Linked DNA regions of Homo sapiens: region 1 is linked to region 2. Evidence: fine-mapped expression QTL. A gene starts in region 2. The other region holds a variant in brackets. All regions are shown on one strand. Distances are between the middles of the regions. Region 1 overlaps USP49 (ubiquitin specific peptidase 49). Region 2 holds the start of FRS3 (fibroblast growth factor receptor substrate 3).

Region 1 (5,373 bases), 30 kb after region 2:
ATCTATCCATGTCTTATAGAAGTCGCCACTTTCTCAACCTGGCACGACAGAGTCCCCAAAAAAGAAAAAGAAAAAGAAAACACTTTTAGAAAAATATTTTCCTTAAAAAAAAAAAAAAAAGTAAAAGGCTTGCAATTGATATTTCAACTCTAGATTCATTCATTTTCAACTCCAAATTGGTTCCTTTGAAAGTTAAAAAAAGGCACATTTGGTATAAAGGCAGAGAGTTACAGGACAGTTAAATTACTTAAAAAGGAAGACTCTTACGGAAGGGTTAGCACAAATTTGAAACTTTATGGTGTTTCACATACCAGTGGGAGAGATGAAGAAACTCAAATAAAAAGTCAATTTTAGGTCGATTGCAATGTTTTTCAAAGCAGAGATAACATGATATAAGATAGAAATAAGAGAAAGAAAGTCCTCACCAGTACAAAGTATCATTTTTATGAGACGTGACTAAGGAACATTGTATATGTGGTTTTGTTTTGAGACGGGGTCACTCTGTCGCCCAGGCTGGAGTGCAGTGGCGGGATATCAGCTCATTGCAACCTCCACCTCCCGGGCTCAAGCGATTCTCCCACTTCAGCCTCCCGAGTATCTGGGATTACTGACGCCACGCCACCACACCCGGCTAATTTTTGTATTTTTAGTAGAGACGGGGTTTCAACATGTTGGCCAGGTTGGTCTCGAACTCCTGACCTCAGGTGATCTGCCCACCTCGGCATTCCAAAGTGCTGGGAATACAGGCATGAGCCACCGTGCACAGCCGTATATGTGTTTTTTAATTTATTTTTTGTTTTTTATGTATTTTTTTTTTTGAGGTCGAGCCTCCCTCTGTCACCCAGGATGGAGTGTAGTGGTGCAGTCTCAGCTCACTGCAACTTCTGCCTCCCTGGTTCAAGCGATTCTCCTGCCTCAGCCTCCCAGGAAGCTGGGATTACAGGTGCGCGCACCACCACACCCGGCTAATTTTTTTGTATTTTTAGTAGAGACGAGATTTAACCATGTTGGCCAGGCTGGTCTCGAACTACTGACCTAAATGATCTGCCCGCCTCAGCCTCCTAAAGTGCTGGGAATACAGGCACGAGCCACTGCGCCCAGCCAACATCCGTCTTTTTGAAAAGAACATCTGCATCTTGCAGTAAGGGTGGGAAAACTTTTACCTTCTTTACTGAAAGGAAAGGTAAGTAAAGAACTGGACAAATCTGACTTAGGACAAGAGGTGAAGTGGCTACTGGTATAATATTTAACCAAACTACCGAAACAAAAGAAAAAAAAGCAACGAATCTTCCAGCTGATATATATGAAAATGCTTTTTAAAACAGTAGAACATCCTAAGCATGTTTTTTTTTCCCCCTCCCAATAATGCTTCTTCAATTCAATAATCAGAGAAGCCTTGTGGGCAATTTCTCCAAGGGAAAGAAGCTATACAACTTTTTTTTTTTTTTTTTTTTTGAGATGGAGTCTCGCTCTGTCACCAGGCTGGAGTACAGTGGCGTGGTCTCAGCTCACTGCAACCTCCACCTCCCGGGTTCAAGCGATTCTCCTGCCTCAGCCTCCCGAGTAGCTGGGACTAAAGGCGTGCGCCACCACGCCCAGCTAATTTTTTTGTATTTTTAGTAGAGACAGGGTTTCACCATGTTGACCAGGATGGTCCCGATCTCTTGACCTCGTGATCCGCCCACCTCAGCCTCCCAAAGTGCTGCGATTATAGGTGTGAGCCAACACGCCAGGCTGCTATACAACTATTTTAAAAGAAAACTTTTATATCTTTGGAACTTTGAAAGGCGTTTTCCCCTCAATACCAGAACTTAAAATTCCTTAGGCTGGGCACCGTGGCTTGCACACTTCGGGAGGCTGAGGTGGAAGGATTGAGGTCAGGAGTTCAAGACCAGCCTAGCCAACATAGACCTGTCCTATCTAATCTATCTATCTATTTACTTATATATTTATATATTTTGAGAGAGGGTCTCTCTGTCACCCAGCCTGGAGTGCGGTGGTGTGATCTTGGCTCACTGCAGCCACCACTTCCTGGGTTCAAGTGATCCTCCCACCTCAGCCTCTAGAGTAGATGAGATCATAGGTGCATGCCACTATGCCCAGCTAATTTTATTTTTTGTAGATATGGGGATCTCACTATGTTGCCCAGGCTGGTCTTAAACTTCTGGGCACAGTGATCCTCCTGCCTTGGCCTCCCAAAGTGTTAGGATTATAGGTGTGAGCCACCACACCTGGCCTAGTCTCTTTAAAATTAAAAAAAAAAAAAAGGCCAGGTGCGGTGGCTCATGCCTGTAATCCCAATACTTTGGGAGGCCGAGGCAGGTGGATCACCTAAGGTCAGGAGCTCGAGACCAGACTGACCAACATGGTGAAACCCCATCTCTACTAAAAAAATAAAAAAATTAGCCAGACGTGGTGGCAGGCGCCTGTAATCCCAGCTACTCAGGAGGCTGAGGCAGGCGAATCGCTAGAACCTAGGAGGTGGAGGTTGCAGTGAGCCAAGATCGCGCCATTGCATTCCAGCCTGGAGGACAGAGCAAGACTCCGTCTCAAAAAGAAAATAATAAAATAGGCCGGGTACGGTGGCTCACACCTGTAATCCTAGCACTTTGGGAGTCCGAGGCGGGAGGATCACAAGGTCAGGAGATCGAGACCATCCTGCCTAACGCGGTGAAACCCCAACTCTACTAAAAATACAAAAAATTAGCCAGGCGTGGTGGTGGGCGCCTGTGGTCCCAACCTACTCAGGAGGCTGAGGCAGGAGAATGGCGTGAACCCGGGAGGTGGAACTTGCAGTGAGCCGAGATTGCGCCACGGCACTCCAGCCTGGGTGACAGAGCGAGACTCCGTCTCAAAAAATAAATAGATAAATAAAAATTAAAAAATAAAGAAAATAGGCCGGGCGCGGTGGCTCACGCCTGTAATCCCAGCATTTTGGGAGGCCGAGGAGGGCAGATCACGAGGTCAG[A/G]GGATCGAGACCATCCTGGCTAACACGGTGAAACCCTGTCTCTACTAAAAAATACAAAAAATTAGCCGGGCGCGGTGGCGGGTGCCTTTAGTCCCAGCTGCTCCGGAGGCTGAGGCAGGGGAATGGCGCGAACCCGGGAGGCGGAGCTTGCAGTGAGCCGAGATCGCGCCACTGCACTTCAGCCTGGGCGACAGAGCAAGACTCCGTCTCAAAAAATAAATAAATAAAAATAAAAAAATAAAGAAAATAATAAAATAGGCCGGGTGCAGTGGCTCACGCCTGTAATCCCAACATTTTGGGAGACCGAGGCAGGCGGATCACCTGAGGTCAGGAGTTCGAGACCAGCCTAGCCAACATGGTGAAACCCCGTCTCTACTAAAAAAAAAAACACAAAAAAAATTAGCCAGGTGTGGTGGCAGGCGCCTGTAATCCCAGCTATTCGGGAAGCTGAGGCAGAAGAATTGCTTGAACCTGGAGGTGGAAGTTGCAGTGAGCCAAGATTGTGCCATCGCACTCCAGCCTGGGGGACAAGAGCGAGACTTCGTCTCCAAAAAATAAAAAATAAATAAAAAATAAATAAATAATTCAATTCCCTAAAGATAGTTCCTCTTTTTTTTTTTTTTGAGACAGAGCCTCACTCTGTTGCCCAGGCTGGAGTGCACTGGCATGATCTTGGCTCAGTGCAACCTCCATCTCCCAGGTTCAAGCAATCCTCCTGCCTCAGCCTCCCTAGTAGCTGGGATTACAGGCAAGGGCCACCACACCCAGCTAATTTTTGTATTTTTAGTAGATATGGGGTTTCACCATGTTGGCCAGGCTGGTCTTGAACTCCTGACCTCAGGTGATCCTGAGGTCAGGTGACCCGCCTCAGCCTCCCAAAGTGCTGGGATTATAGGTGTGAGCCACCGTGCCCGGCCGGTAGTTCCTCTTTCAAGGTGAATTTCTTTCACCTCCATTTATTCTCTACTTTTCATTTCTGTGAGCAAATGCAGTTTCATGATTATGAGGTCAACCCAGAGAAGTTCTAAATCCAATGTACTGTGAGTAGCCCCTTTAATTTTCCAGATGCCGTTTTTGGCCTAGTCCTATTTATGTGTGCCAAAACCCACAAATAAATAAATATACTGCAGGACCAAATTAGAGATTCTTCCCTTTTTTATTGCCTGTTCCAGATGGCAGAGGCATGTCTTTATATAAGAAACCCTCAAATCATACAAAGGGAAGCGACCTAGACTACTCTCAATCAAGCCAGATCATGATTTTCTCATTGCTAAGCACCCTTTACATCATTTTTCTGGATGTGTTTGCCCACTTTCTAACAAGATATACAGTAGCCTCCCTTTATACATGGTTTCACTTTCTGAGGTTTCGGTCACCTGTGGTGCAGTACAGTAAGATACTCCAAGAGACCACATTCACATAATTTTTATTACAGTATATTGTTGTAATTGTTCTATTGTATTATGTTATTATTACTGTGCCTCATTTAAAAACTAAACTTTATAGGTATGTATGTACAGGAAAAAAACATAGTATATATAGGGTTCGATACTATCTGTGGTTTCAGGCATCCACTGGGGGTCTTGAAACATATCCCCTAAGGATAAGGGGGGAATACTGTAATCTTCTTCAGAGAGGAGATTATGTATATTTCTGTTTTTACCCCCTTATAATGCCAAGACTTGTGGGTGCTCAACTCTTAGTGGTCAAAAGTATTCTGTCAGAATTACCCTCTCACACAGTCTGGAATAGTATTGAAATAACCATTTTTGTTGATTTTTCTTAGTGCACAGCCAAATCAAAACACACATACATTAAAAGATGGAATAGTAAATAAATGAATTTTCTTCTTGCTACTTAGTACCAACTAAGGGTACAAATTGGGTACACATTGATGCTTACAACTAATTCCTGGGACACAAAAGAAAGTAATGAAGGAATGAAGGGGAGGGAAAAATATCAAGATGCAGACAATTCCTGTTTCTCACTCTCACTAATTCAATATTCTTTGAAAATGTAGTCCCTGAACTACCTACCAACATCTGAATTCCCCAGGCTACTTGTTATATATACAGATTTCCTGGTTACTACTCCAGTCCTGATGAATCTGAACCTGGAGAGGCTTCTAAAATCTCAATGATTCTTTTTTTTTTTTCAGACGGAGTTTCGCTCTTGTTGCCCAGGCTAGAGTTCAGTGGCGCAATCTAGGCTCACCACAATCTCCGCCTCCCGAGTTCAAGCGATTCTCCTGTCTCAGCCTCACAAATAGCTGGGATTATAGGCATGCGCCACCACGCCCGGCTAATTTTGTATTTTTAGTAGAGACGGGGTTTCTCCATATTGGTCAGGCTGGTCTTGAACTCCCGACCTCAGGTGATCCGCCTACCTCGGCCTCCCAAAGTGCT
Region 2 (5,373 bases):
GGTGGGGTGGTTGTCTGGAACGCTGTCTCTGTTCAGGCAGCTGCAGCAGCTCCCCATGGTGTCAGAGCAGCCAGCCTGCCCTAGGAAAAACATACAGGATATGCAGGTCACCAACTTCAGCTTCAAAAAACCCTGCTCTGGGGAACTTGGGCAGAAGCACGTCATTGTGATCACCTACTCTGTCCAAGAGACTGTGTGATACAGACCCCCCCTCAAAGACTTCACATTCTCAATCCAGGGCCAGACACACATTGGATAAACGTTAATTCAAGTTACAATGTGTTAAGGATGAATGCCGATGGGGGGCTGGAGAGAGCTTCTCAGAGGTAACATTTGATCTGGACCTTGAGAAGTATGTAGGATTCTGACCCATGTAATGACAAGGAAGGCAGGGACACAGGCAGGAAGAAAAGTAGGGGTCCAGGAGAAGTGATCTGCAGCAGATGGAGGTGGGTGCCAGCCCGAGCCCCTTATTTGGATTCAGCAAAGAAATTGTCACTTGGGGGTCTCAGACACTTTGGCCTGTGCCTGTCTCTTTTTTCCTCCCTTTTTACCTCATCCATTCCACTTCATCCAAGTTCTCTCTTCTCCCTTACTACCATCCCAACATCCAGTGCAAATTTATCTTTCTGATGTCCTCTTCAAATGAGTTGTTACATTGTGATCATAAAGATATATTCAGAAGACTGAACATTTAAAACAGTGCAGTTTTAATAACCTCAAGTGGATATTTCTTCATTTAAAAAAAATGCTGGGTTTCCTTCCCTTTTTCTGAAGGGGAGACCAGAGGCCTTACTATTTGGCTCTTCCCCTCCAGGATTCCAGTACTTGGATTATATGTCACAATAGTCAGGACTGTGCCTAGAATGAAGAGGACACCACCCAAGCTTGAATGACCTAAGGGAACAAGAAATGCATGGACCAATACCAAGCAGAAGTTTTAAGGGGTTGCAACTTGTCACAAGAAATAAGTCTGTAGGATTGGCTATCCTTCTAGAACTCCTGCTGAATGGTAAAGCTTTGAACAACCAGGTGACCTGTACCCTCTGTTCCTCCCAACTTGGGAAACGCCATAAAACTGACCCCTATACACAGCTCTTACCTCACCCAGGCCATCGGGGAGCTGACCGTGGGAGGGGCATGGGGAAGGGTTCCCACTTTATTCCCCCCGTCCTTGGTGGGCTGTCATGGCAAACAGTCTGCAGAGAAGTCACCCGGATCCCTCTGGGATACACCTGGGGCTCACCTAGCATAGGAAACAGAGACACTGATTAACAAAACCTTCTATCTTCACCCCCAACTGTTAATGAAAACTGACCTAACAGTCCATCCCACCTGGGTATCTGTTCCAGCCCTAATGGGACAAAAACACCAATGAAGAAAGTAAAATCAAGGGCAAAGGGAGCACAAATCCCAAGCCCCACGGGCCCTGAGAGGGACAGACACCAAGAACATCAATAAGTTTGAAGTCTAAGACGACCAAAGACCTTTTAAGTCACTTTAGATCTCCCTCTGAGTCCTGTTACAACAAACACCAAAACCATCACCTTACCTTTGCAGAGAACTTTAACTCTACAAAGAGCTTTCTCAAAAGGACACTGTGATATAGTAGAGACAGCACTGGTTTAAGACTCAGGAAACCAATATATCGGTCAGTTTTGTTGCTACTAAGTATCTGGGAGACTTAAGTCAACGCCCCCCCCAACTCCCACCTAAGGCCTTAGTTTTTGGGGGAACCATCTATAAACTGGGGAGCTTCTAGCTTAAATAACTTGCAGAGGTAAAAACGTAAGACAAACTTCACTAAAATTGACATGTTCATCTTCCAAGACAGGCTGCTTCAATTTCGCATTTGGAAGCTTGATAGATTTTCTGCTCCCCAAGCTCTGAAAGGCCTAATTTTAACATAAATGTTAACAGTAAGCCAAAATTTCAGGATATCTGAGCCCAAGGTAGACAAGTCAACAAGCCAGGACTCTGCAGACCCTGGACATCCCACATTCCTGCTCTGGAGAAACACTTCCCAGGGCCCCTTGCACCCTGCATCCTTGGACAACTTCCAGGTAAAAGGACCCCATCCCCTTGGTCTGGCTTATTTTCTGGAAGGAAGAAGCAGGCTCAGGGAGGTGTGCACAGACTAAAGATAGGTTGCTGGGAAAATACTGGGGCTTGAGCCACCGACGGGGGCACGGCGCGGGCACTGAAACGAAGAACTCTAGGGTGCAAGATGGGGGAGGGGCTGAATTTCCCTATCACCATCTCTTCTCCTTAAGATATCAGGATGTATCAGATAGCCCACTGAGGAGGGACTGCATTGAGTGGAAATGGGGAGAGGCCTCTGGTCTGGGATAGGTATGGATCAGGGGCAGGAGTGAGAGGGGGGTGTGGGGGCTGAAAACGTATGAGGACGTTTGGGGAAACATGAGCAAGAATTTTGGATGTGGGCATTTTGGATAGTGCAAGGAGAATGGGGATATGAGGGATCCTAGGAATTTCCGGGCAGTGGAAGCATTTGGGGGCATCCAAGAGAAATGGTGGGTCCGTGGGCATAGCAGGAGATTTGTTGAGTGAATGAGGGGGTTCTGAGGGCTCCAGGAGATGCGATGATGTGTCCAGGGCGGAGAGGGTAGAGGTGGGTTGGGGGAGCCAGAGGCTGCAGGACAGGCTACAGGACTGTCAAGGGGAATTTCTACATGCCCGTAAGGAATGAGGAGGTCTGGGTGCGCGCTGTCCCCGGATCCCCGCCCCCAGCCCCGGTGCTCCGCCGCCTGCCCGCCCGCCCGGGGCTTCCTAGGGAGGGAGTGGAGACTGCGGCGCGGCGCGGCGCGGCGCGGCGCGGCCTCGGTGAAGCCGCCTCGTCCCCGCCCCGCCGCGCCCCGACTCACATCGCCCCGCGGCCCGGGCGGCGCCGGGCCCCGCTCCCGGGTCCCGCTGCAGCAGCCGCCGCCCGCCCGGAGCTAAGGCCTCCCCGCCCCGCCCCGCCCCGCGGCCGCGGGGTCGGAGGTCACCGGCAGCACCAACGAGACGCTGCGGGCTGGCGGACCCGAGCGGGGGCGACCGGCACGCAGCCTAGAAGGTCCCTTTGGAGGACTTTGCAGTCGGGAGCAGTGAGCATGCGCAGACGCCAGAGGGCGCTCCTGGCCAGGGGCTGAGCAAGCCCGGAGGGGACAGGGCGGAGCCTGCGGCGGAGGCGGGGCGCGGAGGCGGGGCTGAGGACACCAAAGTTGGGGGTGGTCCGGGGAGCGGAAAGGGGACGGAGGGTTGGGCGAGAAACGAAGGGAAGGGGAGAGGGTCTGAAGGGACCTGAAAGGAGAAGGGCAAGACGATGGAACCTGGAAGAGGGTTGAGGGGAGGGGAAGGGGCCAGGGGGACCACTGGGGACAAGGGGGAGAGAACTGAAGGGAAACACGCGGAGGAGCGGGGCTGGGAGACCACAGGGAGAGTTTGGGGAGACCTGGGAACTGCGGAGAGACAGGGCTGCGGGCCCGGCGAGGCGTTTCCATTCAGCGAATGGTTGAAAACCCAGCGTAAACGCGGCTCCCGGCGTCTGCTGGATGCCTGCCGGGCGCAGTCCGAGCCAGAGAGCCCTTGCACCTGCATGGCAGAGGCCATGGAGCCCGCACATTTCCACCCTGAGATCCCATAAATGTGGTTTTGTTTTCCTTTTTTTTTTCCTCCCCCCAATCTGCAGCTCCAGGCCCCTCCCTGAGCCGCCCCTCTCCACCAGCCGGGGAGGGGCGGGCGGGGGCCGCTGGGGCGTGGGAGAGGAAGGGCCGCGCTATTAGGGCGGGCGGGGGCGGACGGGGGCGGGCGCTGAAGCCTTGGGGTGGGGACCGGGTGAGGGGCCTGACGGCAGAGTCGGTCCAGAACTGCCCGGACAGCGACGCACAGCGAGGGTGAGACCCCAGCGGAGTCCTGGTCCCCTCCCCTAAAATCCCAGCAGCCAGACCGGGAACCCCAGCGGACTCGGGAAACACCGCGTCCCAGCCCCGGAGGCGGGCCCGCCAAGTTCCAGAAAAACTCTGGGGATCTATCGAGAGGGCAGTTGGCGGGACTGGGCACTCCCCTTCCTTCTCCCTCCCACTGTCCCCAGAAATCTTCCCATCCCTCCACCTCCCCAAGCCCTAAGTCCTCTCGGGCTCTGCCCTTCAGGGCAGCGGGTGTTGGGGATGTCCAGCTCCTGAGCCCTCTTGCACGGAGGCTCTGCACGGAGGCAAGACAAGGGGTTCAGCTCTGTCCCTTATCTGAGGTGGGAGGGGGAAGGGAATTATGGAAGGAATCCAGCTGGCCTGTTAGTAAGGGTGTTCCAGTGCTAGGTGGAGGTGGAGTTTGGCTGCCTTTGGGGAGATTGGAAGGGTGAGGAATAGAGGCCTGATTTCTGAGTGTTGTTTCTGTGTTGGACAATTCTATGCAAACTAGAGCCAAAATGGAAGAGGGTGCAAGTCCCCTCCTGGGGCCCCAGACGCCCCCTCCTTTCTTGCTGCCTGGAGCAGGGGCAGTGCTGTTAGTGGCTACTCCTGGTGTGAACAGCCCATCCTGGCCACCTTCCACAGGAAACCTGACCTGAAGGACAGAAGAGGAAGGAAGCAGGTGGGTGTGAAGCCAGGAAGGAGGGAAGGGTGGCACAGGACATTTGAAGTGGGAGTGGAGGGGCGGTGCTGAGGAGGGTTCAGTGCTGGGAAGCAATATTAACTGTTACAGTCCAAACCCTCACCTCAACCCCAGTACGAATCCCTGGCCCAGTCTTAGAGGCCAGGGATTTGATGATGACCCTCCTGTGCCCAGCTACTTTCAGAATCTATCCCAGCTCTCAGAAGCCAGGTCCCCCTAAGGCTTCCCTTAGCCTCTGGTATGATCTTGGGCAAGTTAATTAACTTGTTTCAACTGTCAAGTGGAATGAAAGAGATTACCTCATAAGATTATTGTGAGGATGGACTATATTATGTAATATTCTAGAAGAGTCCTTGGCACAGAGTAAATATTATTAAAAAGTTTGCTCTGGTTATTTTTTTCTCCAGGGTTTTTGTATGTCTGTCCCGAGCTCTGATTGATCCCATTCTACCTGGTTTCATCTTTGTCTTACCCACTATGAGCTCCTTGAGGGCGGGGCTCATCTCTTCTCTACATTAATAGTCGCTTTTTTTTTTTTTTTTTTGAGACGGAGTCTCACTCTGTTGCCCAGGCTGGAGTGCAGTGGCATGATCTCAGCTCACTGCCACCTCTGCCTTCCAGGTAGGTTGGAGCGATTCTCCTGCCTCAGCCTCTGGAGTAGCTGGGATTACAGGCACACATTACCACGCCCAGCTTATTTTTGTATTTGTAGTAGAGATGGGGTTTCCCCATGTTGGCCAGGATGGTCTCGAACCACTGACC

What was found. PIP is the estimated chance that this variant, and not a neighbour inherited with it, causes the effect.
Region 1: its variant is the best candidate, but not a certain one, in a credible set for the expression of FRS3 in blood mononuclear cells (TOPMed, PIP 0.73).

Annotation. Positions count from the first base shown.
Region 1 is chr6:41,806,974-41,812,346 of GRCh38, forward strand. USP49 (ubiquitin specific peptidase 49) reads right to left here. Exons shown (of 8, transcript NM_001286554.2): 4 at 1-38. The coding sequence starts at 10. Among named protein-coding and RNA genes, the nearest start is that of TOMM6, 22 kb to the left of the region's middle. The variant A/G (reference allele first, on the strand shown) is at 2,969.
Region 2 is chr6:41,776,931-41,782,303 of GRCh38, forward strand. FRS3 (fibroblast growth factor receptor substrate 3) reads right to left here and starts at 2,970. Exons shown (of 7, transcript NM_006653.5): 1 at 2,886-2,970; 2 at 1,103-1,246; 3 at 1-80. The coding sequence starts at 57. It overlaps PRICKLE4 (prickle planar cell polarity protein 4), which reads left to right and starts at 3,852. Exons shown (of 8, transcript NM_013397.6): 1 at 3,852-3,896; 2 at 4,420-4,590. RefSeq lists silencers at 2,696-2,845, 2,876-3,285, 3,566-3,635.